Linked DNA regions of Homo sapiens. The protein of the gene in region 1 interacts with the protein of each later gene in a pairwise test. Each region holds a gene or a part of one and is shown on either strand. Other genes may lie near its edges. The genes, in order: ZMYM5 and GTF2IRD1.

What was found.
Region 2: the proteins of ZMYM5 (region 1) and GTF2IRD1 interact in a two-hybrid assay, tested with the Homo sapiens proteins (one study listed by BioGRID and IntAct).

What each region holds. Positions count from the first base shown.
Region 1 is NC_000013.11:19,846,650-19,853,649, forward strand, and holds part of ZMYM5 (zinc finger MYM-type protein 5), read right to left. Parts: intron 5,542-7,000; coding exon of another isoform or gene 5,532-5,541; coding exon 5,040-5,531; intron 4,800-5,039; coding exon 4,706-4,799; intron 1-4,705. UniProt on the Homo sapiens protein: Functions as a transcriptional regulator.
Region 2 is NC_000007.14:74,451,488-74,468,673, forward strand, and holds the start of GTF2IRD1 (general transcription factor II-I repeat domain-containing protein 1), read left to right. Parts: upstream 1-2,418; 5' UTR 2,419-2,689; intron 2,690-2,891; exon of another isoform or gene 2,892-3,025; intron 3,026-3,034; exon of another isoform or gene 3,035-3,323; intron 3,324-17,186. UniProt on the Homo sapiens protein: May be a transcription regulator involved in cell-cycle progression and skeletal muscle differentiation. May repress GTF2I transcriptional functions, by preventing its nuclear residency, or by inhibiting its transcriptional activation.

The DNA.
Region 1 (7,000 bases):
TCCAAATAACCAATGCACAATGTTATTAATACAAAGGTTAAAAATCCATTCAAAATCAATAGATTTTAAACTAATAGACCAGTCTGTACCAAATACAGTCCCCCCCTTTTTTTTAAGGAAAAAAAAAACTAGCAGGGTGTTATGGCATGCACTTGTAGTCTCAGCTACTTAGGAGGCTGAGGTGGGAGGATAACTTGAGCCCAGAAGTTTGAGGCTGCAGTGAGCTATGATCATGGCACTGCACTCTAGTCTGGGAAACAGAGTGGGATGCTGACACATAAAAAAATTAAAAATAAACAGTATGAAAAAAATTTTTTTGAGACAGTCTCGCTCTGCTGCCCAGGCTGGAGTGCAATGGCATGATCTCAACTCACTGCAACCTAGGCCTCCCAGGTTCAAGTGATTCTTGTGTCTCAGCCTCCCCAGTAGCTAGGACTACAGGCATGCACAACCACACCCAGCTAATTTTTTGCATTTTTAATAGAGATGGGGTTTTGTCATGTTGGCCAGGCTGGTCTCGAACTCCCAGCCTCAAGTGATCCGCCTGCCTTGGCCTCAAAAAGTGCTGGGATTATAGGCATGAGCCACTGCGCCTGGTGATGAAAACTTAATTATACGGTTACAAATCCCACATTGTAACAACCTCGAAAACTACTAATTGTCAAGTTTTGGTGCTGCATCAAAAGAAAACTATCCACATCTAAAAAGACGTGGAAAATAGTCCTCCCTTCTCCAACCACCTATCTATGTGAGGCCAGATTTTCTTCTTATACTTCAAGCAAAACAAAATACTACAACAGACTCAATACAGAAATACATATGAGAAGCCAGATATACCTGTCTTCTATTAAGCCAGATTTTAAAGAGATTTGCAAAAATGTAAGACAATGTTACTTTTCACTAAATTTCTTTGAAAATAGTTATTTTTCATTACAAATGTTATTTATGTTATATAATGGGTAATTATTGTGAAATGAATAGTTTTAATTTTTCTTTTTTTTTTTTTTCTGTGAGATGGAGTCTCACTCTGTCGCCCATGCTGGAGTGCAGTGGCGTGATCTTGGCTCACTGCAACCTCCCGGGTTCAGGTCATTCTCCTGCCTCAGCCTCCCGAGTAGCTGGGACTACAGGCACCTGCCACCATGCCCGGCTAATTTTTTTTTTTTTTTTTTTTTTTTGTATTTTTAGTAGAGACGGGTTTCACTGTGTTAGCCAGAATGGTCTCGATCTCCTGACCTCGTGATCCGCCCACCTCGGCCTCCCAAAGTGCTGGGATTACAGGCGTGAGCCACTGCGCCCGGACTAGTTTTAATTTTTCTTAAGATTTTATCTTATTTTTTGAAACAAAAAAATTTCTGTCGCCCAGGCTGGAGTGCAGTGGCATGATCTCAGCTCACTGCAACCTCAGCATCCTGAGATCAAGCAATTCTCATGCCTCAGCCTCCCAAGTAGCTGTGACTGCAGGAGCATGCCACCATACCCAGCTAATTTTTTTTTGTTGTTTTTTGTATTTTTGTAAGAGACGGGGTTTCACCATGTTGGCCAGGCTGGTCTTGAACTCCTGACCTCAGGTGATCCGACAGCCTTGGCCTCTGAAAATGCTAGGATTACAGGTGAGAGCCACCACACCCAGGTAATTATTATTTTTTGAGACCGGGTCTCACTCTATTACCCAGGATGGAGTGTAGTGTTGTGATCATGGCTCACTGTAGCCTCAAACTCCTCGGCTCAAGTGATCCTCCTGCCTCAGCCTACGAAAAGTGCTGCAATTACAGATGTGAGCTACTACGTCCATCCATTATTATTATTTTTTAAAGACATTAGGTCTTGCTATGTTGCCCAGACTGGACTCAAACTCCTGGGCTCAGGTGACCCTCCCACCTCAGCCTCTTTGTTTTTTTTTGAGACAAGTCTCACTTTGTCGCCCAGGCTGGAGTGCAGTGGAGTGATCTGGGCTCACTGCAACCTCTGCCTCCCAGGTTCAAGTGATTTTCCTGCCTCAGCCTCCTGAGTAACTGGGGCTACAGGTACATGCCACCATGCCTGGCTACTTTTTAATTTTTTTAGTAGAGATGGGGTTTCACCACGTTGGCCAGGGTGGTCTCAAAATCCTGACTTCAAGTGATCCACCTGCCTTGGCCTCCCAAAGTGCTGGGATTACAGGTGTAAGCCACCATGCCCAGCCCCACCTCAGCCTCTTGAATAGCTGGGACTACAGGTGCACGCCACTATACCTGGCTAAAGCTTTAATTTTTAATATATCTAATAATAGAAATAAAAGAAACCTTTGGGGTCTTCATTTTAAGAGTGAATCTGAGACCAAAAAAATTGAGAATAAGTACCCTATGGAAAAAATAAAAAATGTAAACATACGTATTTATTGTAGCTTCAAAACAATGAAAAAGCATGTAAATGATGAAAAAAATACATAGGGGAATGAGTACTTCAGACAAATATTTTGTGGTTACTAAAACTTATATATACATATTTTTAGAGACAGAGTCCCACTCTGTTGCCTAGGCTGGAGTGCAGCGGTAGGATTAAAGCGCAATGTGACCCCAAACTCCAGGTCTCAACTGACCCATCGCAGCTTCCTTAAGTGCTGAGTTTACAGGTGCACATCATGGCGCCTGGCTAATTTTTTTTTACTTTTTATAGAGATGAGGTCTTCGCTACGTTACTGAGGCTGGGTTCAAACTCCTGGCCTCAAGTGATCCTTCTTCCTTGGCCTCACAAAGCGATGACATTACAGGGGTGTGCCACTGCACCCAGCCTATATTTTTATGATGACATAAAATATTAGCATTTAGATTAAGTAAATCAGCAGGATACAAAACAATATAAAAAGTGCTCTAAATTATATTTTTAAAAACCAAAGATTGAAAGCAAACAAACCAAATTCTTCACAGTGGTCACATTATTTCTAGTTACTGGGGTAAGGAGACATATTTTCTGATTTCTATGATTTTTTTCTAAATATTCTATAATAATCACATAGTATTTCGTAACCAGAAGATAAAATTAATTTTAAAAATAAGGAAAAAAGTTGGCCGGGCGCGGTGGCTCAGGCCTGTAATCCCAGCACTTTGGGAGGCTGAGGCGGGTGAATCACTTGAGGTCAGGAGTTTGAGACCAGCCTGGCCAACATAGTGAAACCCCATCTCTACTAAGAATACAAAAAATTAGCTAGGCGTGATGGCACACGCCTGCAATCCCAGCTACTCGGAAGGCTGAGGCCCGGGGATCACTTGAACCCAGGAGGCAGAGGTTGCAGTGAGCCGAGATCGTGCCACTGCATTCCAGCCTGGGTGACAGAGACTCTGTCTCAAAAAAAAAAAAGGGAAAAAGCACTATTTTCCTGAAGGCAACAACATGATTAGGTTCTCAGGTTCTCGTTACTTTTCAGTACTTTCCTAAAATTCAACAGGCTATAAACACTAAAATGGTCAAAAAAACAATACCAACTCTCCCCCAAACCCCTCACAAGTCACATAAAAGCAACAAAAAGGCATTGCTATTTAAAAAATCACTTGTTATGTTTTAATTATATCAGAATAGGACTATCTATATAAGTTCTAAAAATACAGTTCCTTGATTTAAAGGCAAGAAAGTTTTCCAACTTTCAGAATTAAGCGACTAATAAAACGCCGATTTAAAAACTAAAATCAGGCCAGTCGCAGTGGCTCACACCTGTAATCCCAGCACTTGGGGAGGCTGAGGTGGGCAGATCACCTGAGGTTAGGAGTTTGAGACCAGCCTGGCCAACATGGAGAAACCCTGTCTCTACTAAAAAGACAAAATTAGCCAGGCATGGAGACGGGCGTGCTTGTAATCCCAGCTACCTGGGAGGCTGAGGCAGGAGAATCAGTTGAACCCGGGAGGGAGGGGCTGCAGTGAGCCGAGATGACGCCATTGCACTCCAGCCTGGGCAAAAAGAGCAAAACTCTGTCTCAAATAAATAAATAAATAAATAAATAAAAACTAAAATCAGGGATAAAAACAGCCTAAAATTAAAAGCTTAAGCAAAAATTGAAATTTTAAATAATTATAAATAAAATAAAATCCAATCATTATATATTACTTTGTTCTTTCATTACACTGTATCTTTATCCTTTGATTTTTATATAAAGAAAGTAAAGAAGGTAAAGTATTTCAATTAAAATATTTTAGATGTAAATCTTACTGGATAAAATAGATTAAAATCCCAAAATTTCAGAGACCAAGTAGACCGTACAGTTTTATTAAGTAAAATATTCTATCTTAATATGAAAGTCAAAGGCCGGGAGTGGTGGCTCACGCCTGTAATTCCAACACTTTGGGAAGCCAAGACAGGTGGATCACTTGAGGTTAGGAGTTCGAGATCAGCTTGGTCAACATGGTGAAACCCTATCTCTACTAAAAACACAAAAACTAGCCGAGTGTGGTGGCAGGCGCCTGTAATCCCATCTACTCAGGAGGCTCAGGCAGGAAAAAAAAAATCGCTTGAACCTGGGAGGCGGAGGTTGCAATGAGCTGAGATTGCGCCATTGTACTCCAGCCAGCCTGGGTGAGAAGAGCGAAACTCGGTCTCCAAAAACAAACAAACAAACAAGCAAACAAAAAAAGCAAAGCCACAGAATGTGAATAAAATAGATATGAGCTTTACTAAAAAGAACAGCCAAAGGCTTATTTACTTGAGGTAGAAACAGTATCACTTACTGCTTACCAGGACTATGATGAGTTGCAAATTCTCCATTCTGAAATAAGTCTCCTGCCACATTCATTCTACCAGGGTTAAAAGGTCTTACTCCAGTCTTGGTCTGTGGAGTTAAAGATGGGGTGTACGTTTGTATATTAACACCAAAATTACTTGACTGAAGTCCTTTAGCGACATCTCCCAAGTTGGTATTCTATAGTGATGTTTTATATGTAATAATTATGTTCACATCTTGCCCAGCATTCACAGAGCTTATACCTGTTTCTAAGGTTGTAACATTAGTAATAATGTATTTCAGAGTCAATTCTGTAGTGATACCACTATTACCCATTCCTGCATTTACCTTACTTCTTGAAAGACTGGAAGTGGAGAAATCCAAATCGTTGGTTTTGTTTTTAGTTCCAGGAAGTCCCCATTCGATAAAACAGGAAGACTTTTTCTCTGCTCCTCCATTTGTTTCTATGTCCTCTTCATCATCAATAACAATTGTCTCACTTATATTTCCTTTCTGAGATGCCAAATCTCTTGAAGAAGGAGGAATTACAGAATAATTTCCTTGAGGCTTTTCATTTTTTGATGATGCAAATATGAAGTTTCTTTGATCAGCTATTGCTGGAGCAGAAATTGAAGGAGGTTGTATAGATTCAATAAACACAACATCATCATCATCATCATCATCTTCCACTGGTGAGTTCCTAGATCTACTGACTAAAGGACAAGCTGGATGACCAAATGAATCCCCTATGTCCATGAGACTAGTTGCCATGGCCATATTCCCTAATAAAGCAGGAGTCTGTTCAGTCAACTCTAATCCTCCCACTGAACATTTTTCCATGCCAATGAACCTGTAGAGACAGAAAAGAAAAAAAAAAGTTCTAGTATGTTATGGTTTTTGCATTTTACTACAATAAAATAGCACAAGCAAATTTTTCAAATTATTTTTTGTGATACCTGATATCCATTTTGTTTTTCCTCTACTGTTAACTAATGTTTACTTCAGAGCTTGATGGAAATTAATTATATAATTTTGGTAGTCCTTTAAAAAATTCTAATCAATTTATAGTACTCACTTTATTCACTCTTTATAGTGAAAAAATGCCTGCCTTCCTTTGAATTAGAAAATAGTAACAAAATAATTAAATTAAATACCAATAACTTAGGGTCCTAATATAATCACTTATATTCCATATGCTTTTACCTACTACAGCATTTATGATATGGCCCTATTTCCCAAGTGTCTCCTGCCATTGTTTTCTTTCCAAAATCACTTCTTCCAAAATAATTATGTAATTATCTTTATGCATCTTTTTTGTCCTTGTACAGAAAGCATTAAGTCCATTTATGCCAGATATTATGCAATGGGCTTTTTACAGAAAATAAAATTATCAAAACTCCATGATAGTAGCTATAATTTACTCTTATAGTTCAAGAAACTGAGGCCTAGGGAAGCTAACTAAATTGTTCCACATAACACTGGGAGTAAGACTTAAACTCAGGGCTCTAAAAATTCGTTTTCTTTTGAGAGAGGGTCTGGCTCTGTTGTCCAGGCTGGAGTGCAGTTGTGCCATCCTGGCTCACTGCAGCCTTAAATGCCTGGGTTCAAGCAATCCTCCCACCTCAGCCTCCCAAGTAGGTAGGACTACAGGCTCTTGCCATCACAGCCCAGCTAATGTTCCATAAAGTTCTTGGAGAGAGGAGGTCTCACTACATTGCCCAGGCTCATCTCAAACTCCTGGCCTCAAGCAATCCTCCTGCCTTGGCTCCCCAAAATGCTGGGATTACAGGCATGAGCCATGGTACTTGGCCTAGCCCCAAATTCTTAACTTGTTAACACTCAACCTTTTGTATACTTACTATGCACTAAGCTATGATGACAGAAATAATCTAGCAGAGACAATAGTTGAAAAATCTGGAAGTGAATAACTGATGAAACATGGGGGGCTCTTAAGCAGATGAGAGATAAGGACATGTGCACAGGTGGTAATGAAATTGATCACGTATAAGGATCACCTCTATCTCAACTGAAAGAAGGCAAAAGTAAGTATAATTGGAATGTTATGTAGGTATGCAGAAACAATACATGGGATTATACATGCTGGCCTCAATTTTCAATTTTTTTTTTCTTTTAGTAGATGTGAGGTCTCACTATGTTGCCCAGGCTGGTCTCGAACCCCTGAGCTCAAGTGATTCTCCCACCTGGACCTTTCAAAGTGCTGGGATTACAGGAATGAGCCACCACAACAGGCGTGGCCTCAGTTTTTTTTTTCTTTCTTTTTTTTTTTTGTCCTGTCTCACTCTGTCACT
Region 2 (17,186 bases), on another chromosome or scaffold:
TCAGTCTGATGGGTTTGTGGGTTTCCTATAGGAGACCTGGTCAGCCAAAGTTAACCCTCACCAAGTTCCTGGTGTGTGTCCAGAAGAGACCCCAGTGTAATTGTCTGACGGGTGTTCCTGCCGCTGCACAGGAAGAATTCACTGAGACCATGGTATTACAGCGAGAAATAGTTTTATGTTTCTTAATTTTTAAAATTTTTTAGACAGTCTTACTCTGTCGCCCAGGCTGGAGTGCAGTGGTGCGATCTTGGCTCACTGCAACCTCCGCCTCCCAGGTTCAAGCGATTCTTATGCCTCAGCCTCCTAAGCAGCTGGGATCACAGGTGCCTGCCACCACGCCCGGCTAATTTTTGTGTTTTTAGTAGAGACAGGGTTTCACCATGTTGGCCAGGCTGATCTTGAATGCCTGACCTCAAGTGATCCACCTGCCTCGGCCTCCCAAAGTGTTAGGATTACAGGCATGAGCCACCGTGCCTGGCCTAATTTTTGAAACACAGTCTCACTCTGTCACCCAGGCTGGAGTGCAGTGGCTGAATCTTGGCTCACTGCAGCCTCCACCTCCTGGGTTCCAGTGATTCTCATGCGTCAGCCTTCTGAGTAGCTGGGATTACAGGCATGCACCACCACACCCGGCTAATTTTTGTATTTTTAGTGACCAGGTTTCGCTGTGTTGGCCATGCTGGTCTTGAACTCCTGACCTCAAGCAATCCACCCACCTTCGCCTCCCAAAGTGCTGGGATTACAGGCATGAGCCACTGAGCCCAGCCAAAAGCGTCTTATTAATGCAGAGCTAGCCAAGCAGTAGGACTGGAGTTATTACTCAAATAAATCTCCCCAAGAACTCAGAGGCTAGGGTTTTTATGGATAATTTGGTGGGCAAGGGCCCAGGGAATGGGTACTGCTGATTGGTTGGAGATGAAATCACAGGGGTGTGGCAAACGGTCCTTATGCACTGAGTCGGTCTCTGAGTGGGGGCCACAGGATGGGCTGAGTCATGAGTCACACAGGTCCAGGTGAGTCAGTCGGTTGCCCGAATGCGAAAGTCTGAAAAACATCTCCAAAGACCAATCTCAGTTTCCACAATAGAGATGCTATCTATAGGAGGAAGTGGGGAACTCACAAATCTTGTGATCTCTCGCCACATGACTCCTGAGCAGTCAGATTATAAAAACGATGCGTAGGTTTTAGCAGCGTCCAGGCCCCTCCCATAATCCTAATCTCACGGCCTTTCGTTAGTTTTACAAAGGTGGTTTTGGTCTCTTGTATAAAAAGCAGGTTAGGTTTAAGGAGTAACTATTATCATCCTTGTTTCAAAGTTGAACTATAAACTAAATTCCTCCCCCGGTTAGCTTGGCCTATGCCCCGGAATGAGTGAAGACAGCCAGCGCGTGAGGCTGGAAGCAAGATGGAGTCAGCCACGCTAAACTTCTGTCACTGTCCTAATCTTTGCAAAGGCAGTTTGGCCAGGAGGCTGTGGGGAGACCTTGTGGGTTTTGCCAGGACCTGGGAGATTCTCGATCTATGTTTGGCTGTCCTTCTAAGCCAGAAGCTCCCTGGGGTTGGGGCCTGCCTGGGGTGAGTCCCTCCCTCCCTGCCATGCCCAGTCTAGCCAAGGTCTAGTTCAGGGATCAGGGCACCACGTGGGGGAAGGACTGTGTTCCTTGTGCTGAATTAGGATTTATGGCTTTGGGGCCGGATGGGAGGCGTGCGCACTGATTCAGTAGGAGCGCTGCTGTGGTGTGTGTGTGGTTGGTGGGAGCGGGGCGGGCGGGGGGCGGGGGGGCTGGTTGGGGGGACAGGGGTAAAAGCCTATCAGAGGGAGGTCCCATCAGACAAGATGGGACCAAGAGTCCAGTTGGCTCTGCTGCGACTTTCGGCCTGTCACTGCCTTCCTGCACATCTCAGGGGTGGGAGGGGGACAAAGGCTGTAAGAGTAAGAGGTACCTGGCCCAAGCCTTAGGACTAGAACCCGGGCCAGGCGGGAGTGACCAGCCGGGACACTCAGGGCCTCCGCGCGTTCCAGCTGGGTGACCTTGACCCTCCAACTTCAGCCCCCTGCGCCCGGCTGCTCTCCCAGTGGTGGTGGGGAGCGGTGGGGGTAGACGGGGGCGCGCCCAGGCTTTTCTAATCCGGCGCTGGTGGGGGAGAACCGAGGGCGCCACCGCCCCTCCCCGCAGGTCCGGGGCCGAGGGGTGCGGCGCGCTCTCCCCACCGCGGTGCCCAGGTCCCCGGGACGCAGGGGCGCTGGGTAGCAAGGGGGGTGCGCAGGGGCGCGGGGCGCGGGGCGGGCTAATCCCGTATGTAAATGGCAGCCAATGGAGGGTGGTGTTGCGCGGGGCTGGGATTAGGGCCGGGGCGAATGGCTGGCAATCTTACTGGGATTACAGAACAAAGAGCCTCCCCGCGCTCCCGCTCTCCGCTCCTCTCCCCGCGCCGCCCCGCCCTCCGCCGCAGCCCGCGCCGGGGGTGGGGGCCGCCGAGCGCCAGCCCCCCGGCCGGCCGATTCCCCCCCCGCGCCCCCTCCCCGCGCCTCCCTCCCCGCCCTCGCCGCGCCGCCGTCCTCGCCTCCCTCTGCCTCTCCTTCCCCCATTCTCCCGGATTAATTAAGGAGGCAGCGGCAGGAGGCTGAGTCCTGGCCGCGGGCCGGGGCCGGGGCGCCGCTGGCAGGAGCGCTTGGGGATCCTCCAAGGTAGGAGAAACTTTTGCGGGGGGCGGGCACCGAGGCCCTTCTCCCCTTCTCCCCCACCCCCGCCCCCGATCCCCTCCGCCTCCGGGGGGGGGGGTCCCCGCCCCTCCCCCTCTCAAGGTGTTACAGGAGCTGGGGCCGGCTTTTGGGTGCCCGGGGAGGCACGTGACTGGGATTATAATTCGGGCCCGGGGGGAGGGGAGGGACGGCCGCCCCCCACCTGCCCGGGAGGGGCCGGGAGCTGGGAGCTGTCACCCCCTCCCTCCTTGCCACCGGCTCTTCTGGAGGTGGGGGGCGTCCCGGGCCGGCGCCCGCAGGCTGCTGCAGTTGGCGAATGAGGTCAGTCGCGCTGCCCGCGGTGGCGGGCGCCGGGGTGGGAGCAGAGGGGGCTGGGAAGGCCGCGGTCCCCGCCTTTCCCCCCTCCACCTTCTCCCGGTCTGGGCCAGCCCCTGGCCCGCGCCCCCAACTCCCAGGCGGAGTCCAGTCCAGCCAGGATTGCCCCAGCAGGGTGGTTCCTGTAGTGGACCCCCCGCCCCGGCCCCGGGGAGGGGGCTGGCCTGTGTGGTGGTGGCCGCTGAATCCCGGGTGGAGGGGACTCAGAAGGTGGCAGTGGGGGGACCACAAAGGGTTCAGAGGAGTAAGTTGGGGATACTCGGTCTGTGGGTGGTCTCTGAGTTCCTGCAGATGGGTGGAGAGGACAGAGGAGGGGCCACAGGGTGCTGAACACCCACCCGCCCCATCCTAAGTACCCTGGGCATGATGGGCTTGACACCTCTCCTGGGCTCCTCACCCCTGGCCAGCAGCCAGGGAGTGAGACCCTGCCTCGCCTGGCGTGGGCCCAGGGAAGGGGGCCGCTGTGCCGCTGAGAGTTCGTTCCACCCTCCTGGCAGTGCTGGAGGGGGCTGGAGCTCTGGCGTCTGGCCTAGTGACCCTACCTCCCAGGACCAAGGTCCTGCGGTGGGAGTCTCCTGTGTCCCCATCCCAGCTGAAGCGAGGGTGCTGGGACATAGGGGTCTCGCTGCAGGGCCTGTGAGGGGAGCACTGACTCTTGGATGGAGAATGTGCCAAGGGGTACCCCGGGATGGCCCTGGGCCTGGCGGGTGGGAGTGGAGGGCAGGCCCCCGCAGTTTTTGGAGAAGTGGGCATTTGCTGGGGTTTCTCTTAGAAGAGGAGAGGGGTGTCTAGAAGCCACCCTGGCGCGCCGCTGCCATGGTCGGCCTCTGTGTGTCTGGCTGCCCCGTGGCCAGGACTGTTGACTCCTTGGCACTGGCCCGGGGCCTTGGGACTTGGAAGGTGCCCCAAGCAGCTCATTTATTTCAGCAGTGTCATTCCAGAGGGGAAGGGCACCAGCATCGATTATTTATTCTAAGCAGGAGGAGGTGGCTGGAGGCTGGTGGCTGCTGGCAGGGAGGGGCTAGGTATAAGGTAGTTAGGTGGCCGTCATGAACCGCCCTATTTGGGGCCCAGGAGGGTGTGAGATAGACTCTGACCTCTTCTGAGCAGGCATCTGCGGACCAAGGGACAGGCTTGGCCCCAAGGTGACAGGGTATCGGAACCCCCATCCTGCCTCTGGGGTGTGGGAGGCTCAAGTCCACACCTCGTTCTTCCACAGCCTGTTCTGAGGGTGACCTAGAAATTGGCAGTTCTAACTCAGAGGGTCCCACAGGACCCCACAGAGGAAACTAGGAAGGAAGGGTTGAAACTCCGCAGCCACTCAGAGCCTGCACTCTTAAAATGTTCGAGAACTTAAGGCCGATGGTTGTAAAACTGGGTCTTGAAGACAGCTTTGTAGGGGGCACGCTAAACCTACTTAAAAGGACTGTTCTCTCGATGTTGGGAGAAGGGTCATTTATTTGCAGTATGCTAATCACAAATAATTTTTATCTGTTCATTGAAGGCAGCCTCCCAGGAGCCCGGCTAGCCTTCTGATGAGGTGGTAGTCGTCAGCACTTGGTGTTTGGCAATAGTCTGAGTGGCAGCTGTAATCTAGGGTCTTGGAGGTAGCTGTTTTTGCAGCCTGCTTGACTCCAGAGGCCAGGCCATCCACGGTTTGGTGACAGCTTGGTTGTTGGACCTGGGGTCTTGTGGATGGTGGGTGATGGCTTGGGACATTCACGTCCTAAGCATGACCTTGGAACCATAGACTGCAGCTCCCAGATGATTCTCATTCAGGGTCTAGTCTCTGACCACTCACTGCTTCCTCAGCCGACTCATAAATCCTGTAGTCTGGCCGGGCGCAGTGGCTCACGCCTGTAATCCCAGCACTTTGGGAGGCCGAGGTGGGTGGATCACGAGGTCAGGAGTTCAAGACCAGCCTGGCCAACATGGTGAAACCCCATCTCTACTAAAAATACAAAAAATTAGCCAGGCGTGGTGGCAGGCATCTGTAATCCCAGCTGCTCGGGAGGCTGAGGCAGGAGAATCGCTTGAACCCGGGAGGTGGAGGTTGCAGTGAGCCAAGACCGCACCACTGTACTCCAGCCTGGGCAACAGAGCAAGACTCCATCTAAAAAAAAAAAAAGAAAAAATTCTGTAGTCTTGCCGTTTTCCTGAATGGCCTGGCTTCCTCCTACCCCTGGCCTCTGCACACACAGTTCCTCTTCTCTCGAAGGTTCTTCTTGGCCTTTCCCCTGAGGAGGCTGGGGGGCTTCCTTTATTAGCCCTGCCTGGCTAGGGTAGGGGGTCAGGATTATAGAATTTGCCTCTTTTCCTCTCCTTCAGGACTTGGCTTGGCTGTGGTATCTTTGGGCTGAAGACTTCCTCGTCCTCAGGGCTGGCCATGGTTCCACCTTTATATCCCCATGATGTCCTCTCTTTTTTTTCTTTTTTTCTTTTTTTGAGACAGTCTTGCTCTGTGCCCAGGCTGGGGTGCAGTAGTGTGATCACAGCTCACTGCAGCCTCGAACTCCTGGACTCAAGCCACCCTCCCACCCCAGCCTCACAAGTAGCTGGGACCGCAGACAAGGGCCACTACACCTGGTTAATTTTTTATTGTTTGTAGAGATGGGGTCTTGCTATGTTGCCCAGGCTGGTTTCGAACTCCTGGGCATGAGGAGTCCTCCCACCTTGGCCTCTCAAAGTGCTGGGATGACAGGAGTGAACCACCGCGCCTAGCCAACATCCTTTCCTTCCTTTGTCCCAACATTGATCTTACTCAGATGTTTACATCTCTCTCCCCAATTGCACTAGGGACAGGAAGGGATGGAGGCTTGCTCCTCAAATACTTGTTAAATGGCTACATGTTTGAATGAATGAATGAATGAAATCCTGCTCTTGAGCCTTGACCTAAATGGCTAAGCAGACTCTCTCCTATTTTTCTTAAATGCTCATCTCTGGGGCAAGTTCCCCACCCTGGTAGGAGTCCCAGGGTCTCTCCCTGAACTTCCTGGGGCCCCCTCTCTCCCCACTACCCCAGCCTGTGTCTTCTCCCAACCTTAACCCTGGGGGCTTTGCTCCCCAATGTCATCCTCTCTGTATCTCTCAGTTCTCTGACTCTCGCCGTTTGTAAGTATCTCTCTCTCAGATGCGTGGCAGCCAGGGTCACAGCCAGGTTCTTTGGGACAAGCCAGGGGTGTATGCCCAGCTCCATGGGGCCTGCAGAGGCTTCAGGGGACACCCATGGAAGAAGACCTGCAGGGCCAATTTATAAACAGAGGAGCAGAGCAGGACCCAGGGCTTGGAATCCATGCTGAGTTACGTTTTTGTTTTTTTTTTTTTTTTTTTGAGAGGGAGTCTCACTTTGTCGCCCAGGCTGGCATGCAGTGGCGCCATCTCGGCTCACTGCAACCTCTGCCTCCTGGGTTCAAGCGATTCTCCTGCCTCAAGTAGCCGGGATTACAGGCATGCTCTACCACGCCCGGCTAATTTTTGTATTTTTAGTAGAGATGGGGTTTCATCATGTTGGCCAGTCTGGTCTAGAACTCCTGACCTCAAGTGATCTGCCCGCCTCTGCCTCCCAAAGTGCTGGGATTGCAGGCATGAGACACTGCGCCCGGTCCTGAGTTCAGTTTTGATTGGGGGGCTTCCGGGATAATATGGGGCCGCTAGGACAGGGACCCTTAGTGTGACTGGAAGGGAATTTCCTGAAGGAATTCATAGCAGAGGTGGAGTGGTGGGAAGGATGGTTTCTGGGGGAGAAGGAGATGCGTGAACCTGGCCAGAAGACAGTGTGTTGTGACAGATGATTGCTGGTGAGGGGGTAACAGTCTCCAAGGTGTAGATGTTGGGGGCTCCAGATACGGCAGGAGGGGCCTGGCCTCTCGGAATCCCCTCAGCCCCATCTCATAGAAACATGTGCTTTCTACCCAGGCTCCATACTCCGGAAGGGAGGCAGGACCCTGTCACTTTCTTGGCCTACTTTGGAAGTTCTCAGTCAGGTATCTCCAGGTGTGGCAGAGGGGCTTTGGCCTGTAGGGGGTGTGGTAATGTGGGTTTTGGAGGCAGAAAGCTTTTCAGGAAAGCCCCCTGGTCCATCACCCCCCTTTCTTTTTTTTTTTTTTGAGATGGAGTCTTGCTTTGTTGCCCACGCTGGAGTGCAGTGGCACGATCCCAACTCACTGCAACTTCCACCTCCCGGGTTCAAGTGATTCTCGTGCCTCAGCCTCCCGAGTAGCTGGGATTACAGATGTACACCACCACACCTGGCTAATTTTTGTATTTTTAGTAGAGACGGGGTTTCACCATGTTCGCCAGGCTGGTCTTGAATGAACCCCTGACCTCAAGTGATTGGCCCTCCTTGGCCTCCCAAAGTGCTGGGATTACAGGTGTGAGCCCCCAGGCCCGGCCTCATCATCACTTCTTCACCCACCCTATTTTGGTAGCTCTCTCTCCACTCGTCCTGTGGAACTGATCCATTCTCGGTCCCATTCCCTTCTCTCTGGGCCAATCTGCACCTAGGTTTGTGGCTTCATGAGTATGGAGGGTCGTGCAGAAAGGGGCCAGGTCTGTAGGAACCTGGGTTCATGCCCTGGAAATTTGCCCATTTAAGATAAGTTAGGGCCGGGTGCGGTGGCTCATGCCTGTAATCCCCAGCACTTTGCACTTCGGGAGACCGAGGCGGGCGGATCACCTGAGGTCAGGAGTTTGACTAGCCTGGCCAACACGGTGAAACCCCATCTCTACTAAAAATACAAAAATTAGCCAGGCGTAGTGGCGGGCGCCTGTAATCCCAACTGCTCGGGAGGCTGAGGCAAGAGAATTGCTTGAACCTAAGAGGTGAAGGTTGCCGTGAGCTGAGATCGTACCATTGCACTCCAGCCTGGGCGACAAGAGTGAAACTCTGTCTCAAAAAAAAAAAGATAAGATAGGTGTCCTGAATAAGATAGGTGAAATGGGTGAGGATGTACTTTATCTTACACGGTCTTAGGGAGTGTCTCAGGCGGTGAACAGAACTCTCTCGCCCCTGAGCTGGGGCCTGGCTGACCCAGAGCTATTTGTGTGCCCACCTGTCACCCTCTTTCAGGACCACCTGCTTCAGGTTGCCAGATTTAGCAAATAAAAATAAGGATGCCCAGCTAAAATTGGATTTCAGACAAGCAAGGACTAATGCAATATTTGGGATGAACTTCTAGCTAAAAGTTACCTGTTGTTGATCTGTAGTTCAGACTGAACTGGAGGTCTTGCATTTTATCTGCCAACCCTACAACTGCTGCCTCTGGGGCGGTGAGATGGATGGGGTTTGGGGAGGGGCCAGAGGTGTGTGTGGCTGACCCTGGAGTTGGGATCAGGGCTCAGTGGAGGCCCCGGGGATGATCTGGAGCGAGTTTGAATCGAGTGGAGCTGATTCACTGAATCTTGGCTTTTTTTTTTTTAATTTGTATTGAAATGAGGTCTCACTCTGTCACCCAGGCTGGAGTGCAGTGGCACAATCTCGGCTCACTGCAGCTTCTCCCTCCCCGGCTCAAGCGATCCTTCTGGCTCAGTCTCCCAAGTAGGTGGGACCACAGGCACACGCCACCGTGCCCGGCTAATTTTTTGTATTTTTGGTGGAGATGGGGTTTCGCCATGTTGCCCAGTTCCTGAGTTCAAGTGATCTCAAAGTGCTGGAATTACAGAAGTGAGCCACTGTACCCAGCCAGCAGGGTCCTTTTTCATTTTTATTTTATTCTATTTTTTGAGACAGTGTCTCACTCTGTTTCCCAGGCTGGAGTGCAGTGGCGTGATCCTACCTCACTGCAACCTCCAACTCCTGGGCTCAATGTGATCCTCCCACCTCAGCCTCTGCACCTAGCTAATTAAAAAAAAATTTTTTTTTTTTAGAGATGGGGTCTTGCGATGTTGCCCAGGCTGGTCTCAAGCTCCTGGCCTCAAGCGATCCTCCCACCTCAGCTTCCCAAAGTGCTGGGATTACAGGCAGTATCCTTCTAATGTCCTTGGTCGGGCCTCCTCCAGCCTGTGGCTCGAGGGTCTAGATCTCCTACTGGCCTGGGTGGCATGGAGGGTGTAGTCTAGGTGGCCTGAGGGGTGCCCAGGGATCCCCAGTTTGGGAAGTCCTTGTCTTCAGGGATTTCTGGCCAATGTGGTCCGTATATTTAGAGATGCTGGGAGGAGGGGGTGGGAAATTGCTGGAAACACCCTATTATACACCAAGTAAGATTTTCATGTAGGATTGGCAAGGCCTGAGTGCTGGGAAAGTGTCTGCAATGGCTACCTTTCAAAGCTGGGAGACCCCGCCACGGGGGCGGTTGTGGACTTGAGGGGCTGACCCCACAGCACGGAGGCTGCTGGGAATTCCTGCACCTTTGCCATGCTGCCACCTGAGGCAGGTTCCCAGCACCTGAGCTGCAGCCTCTGGAGTGGGGGAAATGGGGGGAAAGTAAGGGGCCGGGGTCATGGGGTCCACGTCCACCTTCCGCCCGCCTGGGCAGTTTTCTTGGATGTAAAAGGGAGATGGCTCTCCCCAACCTGCCTGGGTCCCAGTGTGGTGCTGTAGTCCAAGGGACTTGGTGTGACCCCGTGGGGATGCCACAGCATGGGTGTGTGGGACCCCCGGGGGCAGGTCTGTGGTGGAGACAGGGTGGGAGGGCCTGGCTTGAGGGCTTGCGGTCCTGGGCACTTGAGGATGCAGAAGAGGCTGCATGGTTGGGGAGGGTAGGTAAGCAGGGGGCAGCTTAGCCCTTTCCCCTCCTGTTCCCTGTGACAGAGGGGAGACCCTCCAGGCTGTTTGTGTCTTAGATGGTTGGCCGAGGGTAGGCCTCTTTGCTGGCTGGGGTCTAGCAGGGTCTCAAGGTGCATTTTCTGGCTACTGGCAGAACCACCATCAAAGCAAGTCCGTATCTTTTCGTCTATCCATCTGTTGTTACGCCAGCCAGTGAGGACCTTGCAGAGGCGTCAGGCCTGAGGGAGTCTCATTAGGTCCTGGTCCCCAGCCCCCGGCTGGCACATGAGAAGGGCCCACTTTATATTTTATTTTATTTATTTATTTAAGATGGAGTCTCACTCTGTCACCCAGGCTGGAGTGCAGTGGCGCGATCTCGGCTCGCTGCAACCTCTGCCTCCCGGGTTCAAGCAATTCTCTTGCCTCAGCCTCCTGAGTAGCTGGGATTATGGGTGCATGCCACCTCGCCCAGCCAATTTTTGTATTTTTAGTAGAGATGGGGTTTTGCCATCTTAGCCAGGCTGGTTTTGAACTCCTGATCTCAAGTGATCTGTCCACCTTGACTTCCCGGAGTGCTGGGATTACAGGCGTGAGCCACTGTGTCCGGCCCCACTTTATATTTTATTAAAAATATCGTTGAGGAGTGAAGGCTATGCTATACCAGGAACTTGCCTGGCTCACACCCTTATGTCGTCCAACCCCCGTCAAGACATAGAACAGCGCTTTGGGAGGCTGAGGCGGGAGGATGGCTTGAGGCCAGGAGTTTGAGACTAGCCTAGACAACATAGTGAAACCTCCATCTCTACAAGAAGTACAAAAATTAGCCAGGCGAGGTGGCTCATGCCTGTAGCCCCAGCTACTCAGGAGGCTGCGGCGGGAGGATCACTTGAGGCCAAGAATTTGAGACCAGCCTGGGCAACATAGCAAGACCCCGTCTCTTAAAAAAAAAATTAGCCGGGTGTGGTGATGTGTGCCTGTAGCCCCAGCTACTTGGGAGGCTAAGGCAGGAGGATTGCTTGACCCCAGGAGTTAGAACAATCCTGTAACCCCTAAAAGTTTTTGAAGCCCGTTTGTTCATCCTTGTCTCTTGTCCTGACCCCAGCAACCACTGATCTGTCTTCTGTATATGGTTTTCCATTTGTACAATGTCACATAAATGGAATCCTACAGTCCACAGCCTCTGAATCTGGCTTCACACAGCATAATGCATTTACGGCATTGCTGGGTACACGGGTAGCTGGTCCCTTCTGGTCCCTGAGTAGTGTTCCATGGTGTGGATATGCCACATACCTCTAGCCACTCTCCTCTCTAGGGAAATCTAGCAAACCGGCTTGGCCGGCCCTGCATCAGCTCGGGACCCCCCAGAAGAAGGTGGTTCCTCTTTCTCATTTTCACAAAGGCACCATCTGGCTGGCGGGGGGCCTGTGGCCTGCACCCCATCACTACCCACCCCCCACATCAAGAGCTGACCCCAAGCCGGGGGAGCTGCTCATCTCCGCCCTCAGAGCTGGAATTTCATCTTCTGTTTCTGGTGACTCATACTGTGAGCCCCGCGATGAAATTACACCTGCCTGCCGCTGCCCTCCGGGCCTCTGGCCCCATGCGATCCTCCCGCCGCCATCCAGGTGGGCTCTGGAGTAATTGAGGCTATGGGGCCAGGACAGCTGGAGGTTGAGGGCGGTGCCAGGGAGGGGAGCTGTCTGTGCCCTGGGGTGTCTTGCCCATCATCTTATGTATCCCCACCCTGTGGGAGTCTGGGGTTCCTGGTGGTGCGTCTCTGGTCTTCACTCCTGCAGCTGTTTTGCTTGGGGTAGAAGTTTCATGTTTGCCTGAAATAAGAGCAGGACTTCTGAGGGTAGGGAAGGAAGGTGGTGAAGCCACTGTTGCAGGCAGGAGCAGGAGTTAGGATCAAACGGAACAGGGCTGGCCGAGTGATGTCACATCTCTGGGCTTTGGTTTGTTCATCTGTTCTTATTATTATTTTGAGACAGGGTCTCGTTCTGTCACCCAGGCTGGAGTGCAGTGGTGCAATCATAGCTTGCTGCAGTCTTGAACTCCTAGGCTCAAGTGATTCTCCCACTTCAGCCTCCTAAGTAGCTGGGCTTGGAGGCACTTGCCACTACACCCAGCTAATTTTTTTATTTTGTAGAGATGGGGGTCTCGCCATGTCGCCCAGGCTGGTCTTGAACTCCTGTGTTCAAGTGATCCCACAACCTCAGCTTCCCAAGTGCTGGGATTAGAGGGGTGAGCCACTGCGTCCTGCCTGTTCATCTTTAAGTGGGAGAACAGAACACTAGGTTTGCAGGGCTGTGAGACTCAGCTGAGGGTAATGTGAGTGTGTGGATTACCACAGAGCCCTGGAGGGCCCCAGGGGCCACCAAGGAGCGGGTGGTGGGGACATGTGAGGCTCAAGCCTCCTGTGCCCCTTTGGGCCAGAGTAGGACCACTGTTGTTTTTTGTTTTTTTTTTTTTGAGACAGAGTCTCACTCTGTCGCCCAGGCTGGAGTGCAGTGGCGTGATCACGGCTCACTACAACCTCCGCCTCCCGGGTTCAGTTGATTCTCCTGCCTCAGCTTCTCGAGTAGCTGGGATCACAGGTGCGTGCCACCACACCCGACTAATTTTTGTATTTTTAGTAGAGGCGGAGTTTCACCATGTTGTCCAGGCTGGTTTCGAACTCCTGACCTCAAATGATCCACCCATCTTGGCCTCCCAGAGTGCTGGAATTACAGGTGTGAGCCACCGCGCCCTGCCCTAGGACCACTTTTACCAGAGTTACCTGTTAGAGCTCTAAATACAGTTCTGGTTGCTAAATGTTTGGAATCCACTGCTGCCTGAGGTCAGCCCTGTGTGAACAGTGGCTATTCTGGTGAATGTTTTTGTGGCTAGAGCCTAGATTATGGTGGTTTACGGACTCCAGCCTGTCACTTGCCTGAGGCTGAGCCTCAGTTTGACCCTCTAGAAAATGGAACCACAGCAAGTACCTCCACAGGTTTGCCAGGTGGGCATGAATGAAGCAGGGGAGCCCAGCAAGAGTTTGTCAGTTTCCCATTGGCAAATCCATGAGTTTCCCAGGGCTCTCGGCTTCCTAAGGAGATGGAGCTTCCTGGGTGATCACATGTCTTGCGTGGGTGTCTTGAGAGATTTGGGGGGTTTTTACTTTGTTGTTTTTGTTGTTGTTATTTGTTTGTTTTTGAAACAGAGTCTCCTTCTGTCACCCAGGCTGGAGTGTAGTGGTGTGATCACGGCTCATGGCAGCCCCCCTCCTCCTGGGTTCAGGCACTTCTCCCGCCTCAGCCTCCCAAATAGCTGGGATTACAGGCACCTGCCACCACACCCGGCTAATTTTTGTGTTTTTAGTAGAGACGGGGTTTCGCCATGTTGGCCAGGCTGGTCTCGAACCCCTGACCTCGAGTGATCCACCTGCCTCAGCCTCCCAAAGTGCTGGGATTACAGACATGAGCACAAGCCACCGCGCCCAGCTGGTTTTTACTTTGTTATTTAATTTGTTATTTGTGAAATCGTTGTGGCCCCTCTCTAATGAAGGTTGCCCCAAGTACCTTTCCCCTGTACCCCACCCTTGCCTCCCACCCCTACCGGGTTCCCCAAAGTCCTCAAAGGCTGGACCCTGGGGCCAGCACTCGGTGGGTAGCCTGGAAAGAGGTTAGCCCTGTGCAGGAAGGAAGGCCCTTGGGTGCTCCTGGGTGGCTCCTTGCAGCAGACAAGACCCACCGCCCACCCACCTGGCTCCAGGGTGGTCCTGGCAGCTCCAAGGGGTCTTGTGACTCTCTCAGTCTGATGTTTCTCTCATGTTTATCCAGGAGCTGGTTTTTCAGGCATGGCCGCTTCTTGCAGTGAGGCCAGGTGGGGAGAGGCAGGGCTTTGGGGAAGGAGGTGGTTACCTCTGCTCCCAGGGCACACCCTGGCTGCCAGCTGTGGGTGCAGCCCTCTGGGCAGGTGGGCAAACCACATCCTCCCTCTTTGATCCTGGTCCACCTCCCCACCTGCCCCGGGCCACCAGCTCCCTGAGATATTCTCTTCTCAGCATATCCAAAGGAGAGATGCTCTTGGTGGCCCTGGGTCAGAGGCCAGGGCTCCCTCACTTCACAGCAGGGTGCAGTGGAACCATCAGGGTCTTTGAAGCCAGACACACCTAGGTTCAAATCCCAGCCTGACTGCTGAGCTGCTGTGTGACCACAGGCAAGTGACTGTACCTCTCTGAGCCTCATCTGAAAAAACAAGGATAGTTTTCTTATATAGTATTGCCAGGTTCTTGGGAAAATCAGTGTATTCAGTTGCGGGGAGCTAGCTGCCATCTCAGTGAAGAACACTTTGTCAGCTTGTCACGTGATGACCCCAGAAGCTGGCCCTGTGGGAGCCCCACTCCCCCAGACAGTGAACCTTGGACCCCATCATTCCAAGATCTGTTCTTATTTTCTGCCTGTCTGGGACACACCCCCTCTGTCCGTGGGGTGTGGGGTGTGGGGTGTGGCATGCCTCAATTTATTTATTTTTTTTGAGACAGAGTCTTCCTCTGTTGCCCAGGCTGGAGTGCAGTGGCAGGATCTCGGCTCACTGCAACCTCTACCTCCTGGGTTCAAGTGAGTCTCCTGCCTCAGCCTCCCGAGTAGCTGGGATCACGGGCGCCCGCCACCATGCCTGGCTAATTTTTTGTATTTTTAGTAGAGACAGGGTTTCACCATGTTGCCCAGGCTGGTCTTGAACTCCTGGCCTCAAGTGATCCACCCGCCTTGGCCTCCCAATGTGTTGGGATTATAGGCATGAGCCACTGCACCCGGACAGCATGCCTCGGTTTCTGCTTCTGCAAACTGGGAAAACCTCAAAGGTAGAACTGGTTGGTCCCCTTGGCCTGCCGACCCCTTAGCCCCTCAAGGTCACAGTCAGCCATCCCGCTTGTTAGAGGCCAGGCCCTGTTCTGGGGCGGGGGCTACCTGTGGCTGCTTAGGGGACGGGAGACAATGCCACTCCCAGGTGTGTTTGATGGCAGCCTGCAGAAGTGGCTTTCTGCATGGCCCTGGAGGACGGTGATTTGGACAGAAGCGTAGGGCCAGAGACAGGACGTGACGGTGGGGCTGCTGCATTGGCTCCAGGTAAAGATCTGTATCTGATGGCCTCACTCCCAGGCAGCTCAGGGGTTCCCGTGGCTCCTGGAAAAGCTACAGACTAGGCATGGCCAGGCCCTGCCTGTGTCTCTCTGTGCCAGCCACGATGAGCCTCATCGTTTCTAAAACGTACTGTGCTCCGTCTCGCTTCCTGGAACGCTGCTGCCTCTCCCCTAGAGCGTGCGTAATGCTCCCCGGCTGTGTCCCTGGGCTGATTTCTCGTTGCAGGTCTCAGCTGGGTTGTCACTCCTCTCTGCAAAGCTTCCCTGACCTCATCTCCCTCTCCAGGTCACGTTAGGTGCCTCTTGTCTGTGTCCCCAGCCACAGCCCGCATCACAAACAAGACTATAATTGCCCTCGTGCTTGTCTGTCACCTTCACAGACAGAGTGTGACTTCCAGTGGGTCACGGCCCCATCATCATGTTGTCCTCCGCATCCCTGACCTTAGCACCCTGCCTGTTGCGGAGTGGGCATCCTGTGCAACCTTGTCAAGTGAATTAGAAGCAAGCTCGGGGTGGGGGCCCATGAAGGGTGGGGGCCTCCTCCACCCTTTTTCTTTCTTTTTTTTTTTTTTTGGAGACAGGGTCTCGCTCCATTGCCCAGGCTGGAGTGCAGTGGCATGATCTCGGCTCACTGCAACCTCCGCCTCATGGGTTAAAGCAATTCTGCCTTAGCCCTCCCCAGTAGCTGGGACCACATGCACCTGCCAACACACCCGGCTAGTTTTTGTATTTTTAGTAGAGATGGGGTTTCATCATGTTGGCCAGGCTGGTCTCAAACTCCTGACCTCAAGTGATCCACCCGCCTCAGCCTCCCAAAATGCTGGGATTACAGGGGTGAGCCCCCATGCCCGGCCCCTCTCCATCCTTCAATCCCAGCTCTCGTTGGCGCTCCTCTACCCATCCCAGGAGCTGCTTCTGCCGGCCTGGCTGTGGCGTTCAGAGGCATCTGGAGGGCAGTGGCGATGGCAGTGGGGGCAGCTTGTCTCTCTGAGCCGAGTACAGCCCAATTTGGAGCGTTTCCCTCCAGGAAAGGCAGCTGATGTGTGCAGACAGCACAAGTGTGGAGTGCCAGAACAGTTAATCCTCTGGGCTATTTATTTATTTATTTATTTTGTTTTGTTGTTGAGATAGAGTCTTGCTCTGTCGCCCAGGCTGGAGTGCAGTGGCGTGATCTTGGCTCACTGCAACCTCCACCTCCCAGGTTCAAGCGATTTGCCTGCCTCAGCTTCCCGAGTAGCTGGGATTACAGGCATGCACTACCACACCTAGCTAATTTTTGTATTTTATTTTGTATTTAATTTTTTATTTTTATTTTTTGAGTCAGAATCTCGCTCTGTCACCCAGGCTGGAGTGCAGTGGTTTGATCTCGACTCACTGCAACCTCTGACTCCTGGTTTCAAGCGATTCTCCTGCCTCAGTCTCCTGAGTAGCTGGGATTACAGGCGCCCGCCACTGCTCCCGGCTAATTTTTGTATTTTTAGTAGAGACGGGGTTTCACCATGTTGGACCAGACTGGTCTTGAACTCCTGTCCTCAGGTGATCCGCCTCTGGGCTATTTAGACACACATGCTTGTGTGCATGCATGGGTGTGTATATGCACATGTATGTGACATTCCTGAGGCCACCGGCGGTGACGAGGCCTGATTACTTGACGTTCTGCTGAATCCTGACTACTAGCCTGGAGCTTTACTCCCCAGTGTACACAGCTCCCCGAGTCCTGGTTAGTGGTAAAGAGGGGACTGTCCCCTGTCATTTAGGGCTGCATTTGGCTACAGGTAATTAAACACCCAACTGTAAATATAGCAAATATCTAAATATTAAGCCAGGTCAGGTGCAGCAGCTCAGGCATGTAATTTTAGCACTTCGGAAGGCCGAGATGGGCAGATTGCTTGAGCTTAGGAGTTTGAGACCGGCCTGGGCAACGTAGTGAGACCCTGTTCTCTACAAAACATAAAAATAATTTAAAAAAAAAAAAAAAACCCAGCCAGGCCGCAGTGGCTCACTCCTGTAATCCCAGCACTTTGGGAGGCTGAGACGCGCAGATCACAAGGTCAGGAGTTCAAGACCAGCCTGGCCAACATGGTGAAACCCCATCTCTACTAAAAATACAAAAAATTAGCCGGGCGTGGTGGCACGTGCCTGTAATCCCAGCTACTTGGGAGGCTGAGACAGGAGAATCACTTGAACCTCGGAGGCAGAGGTTGCAGTGAGCCAAGACTGTGCTACTGCACTCCAGCCTGGCGACAGAGCAGCGAGACTCCATCTCCAAAAAAAAAAAA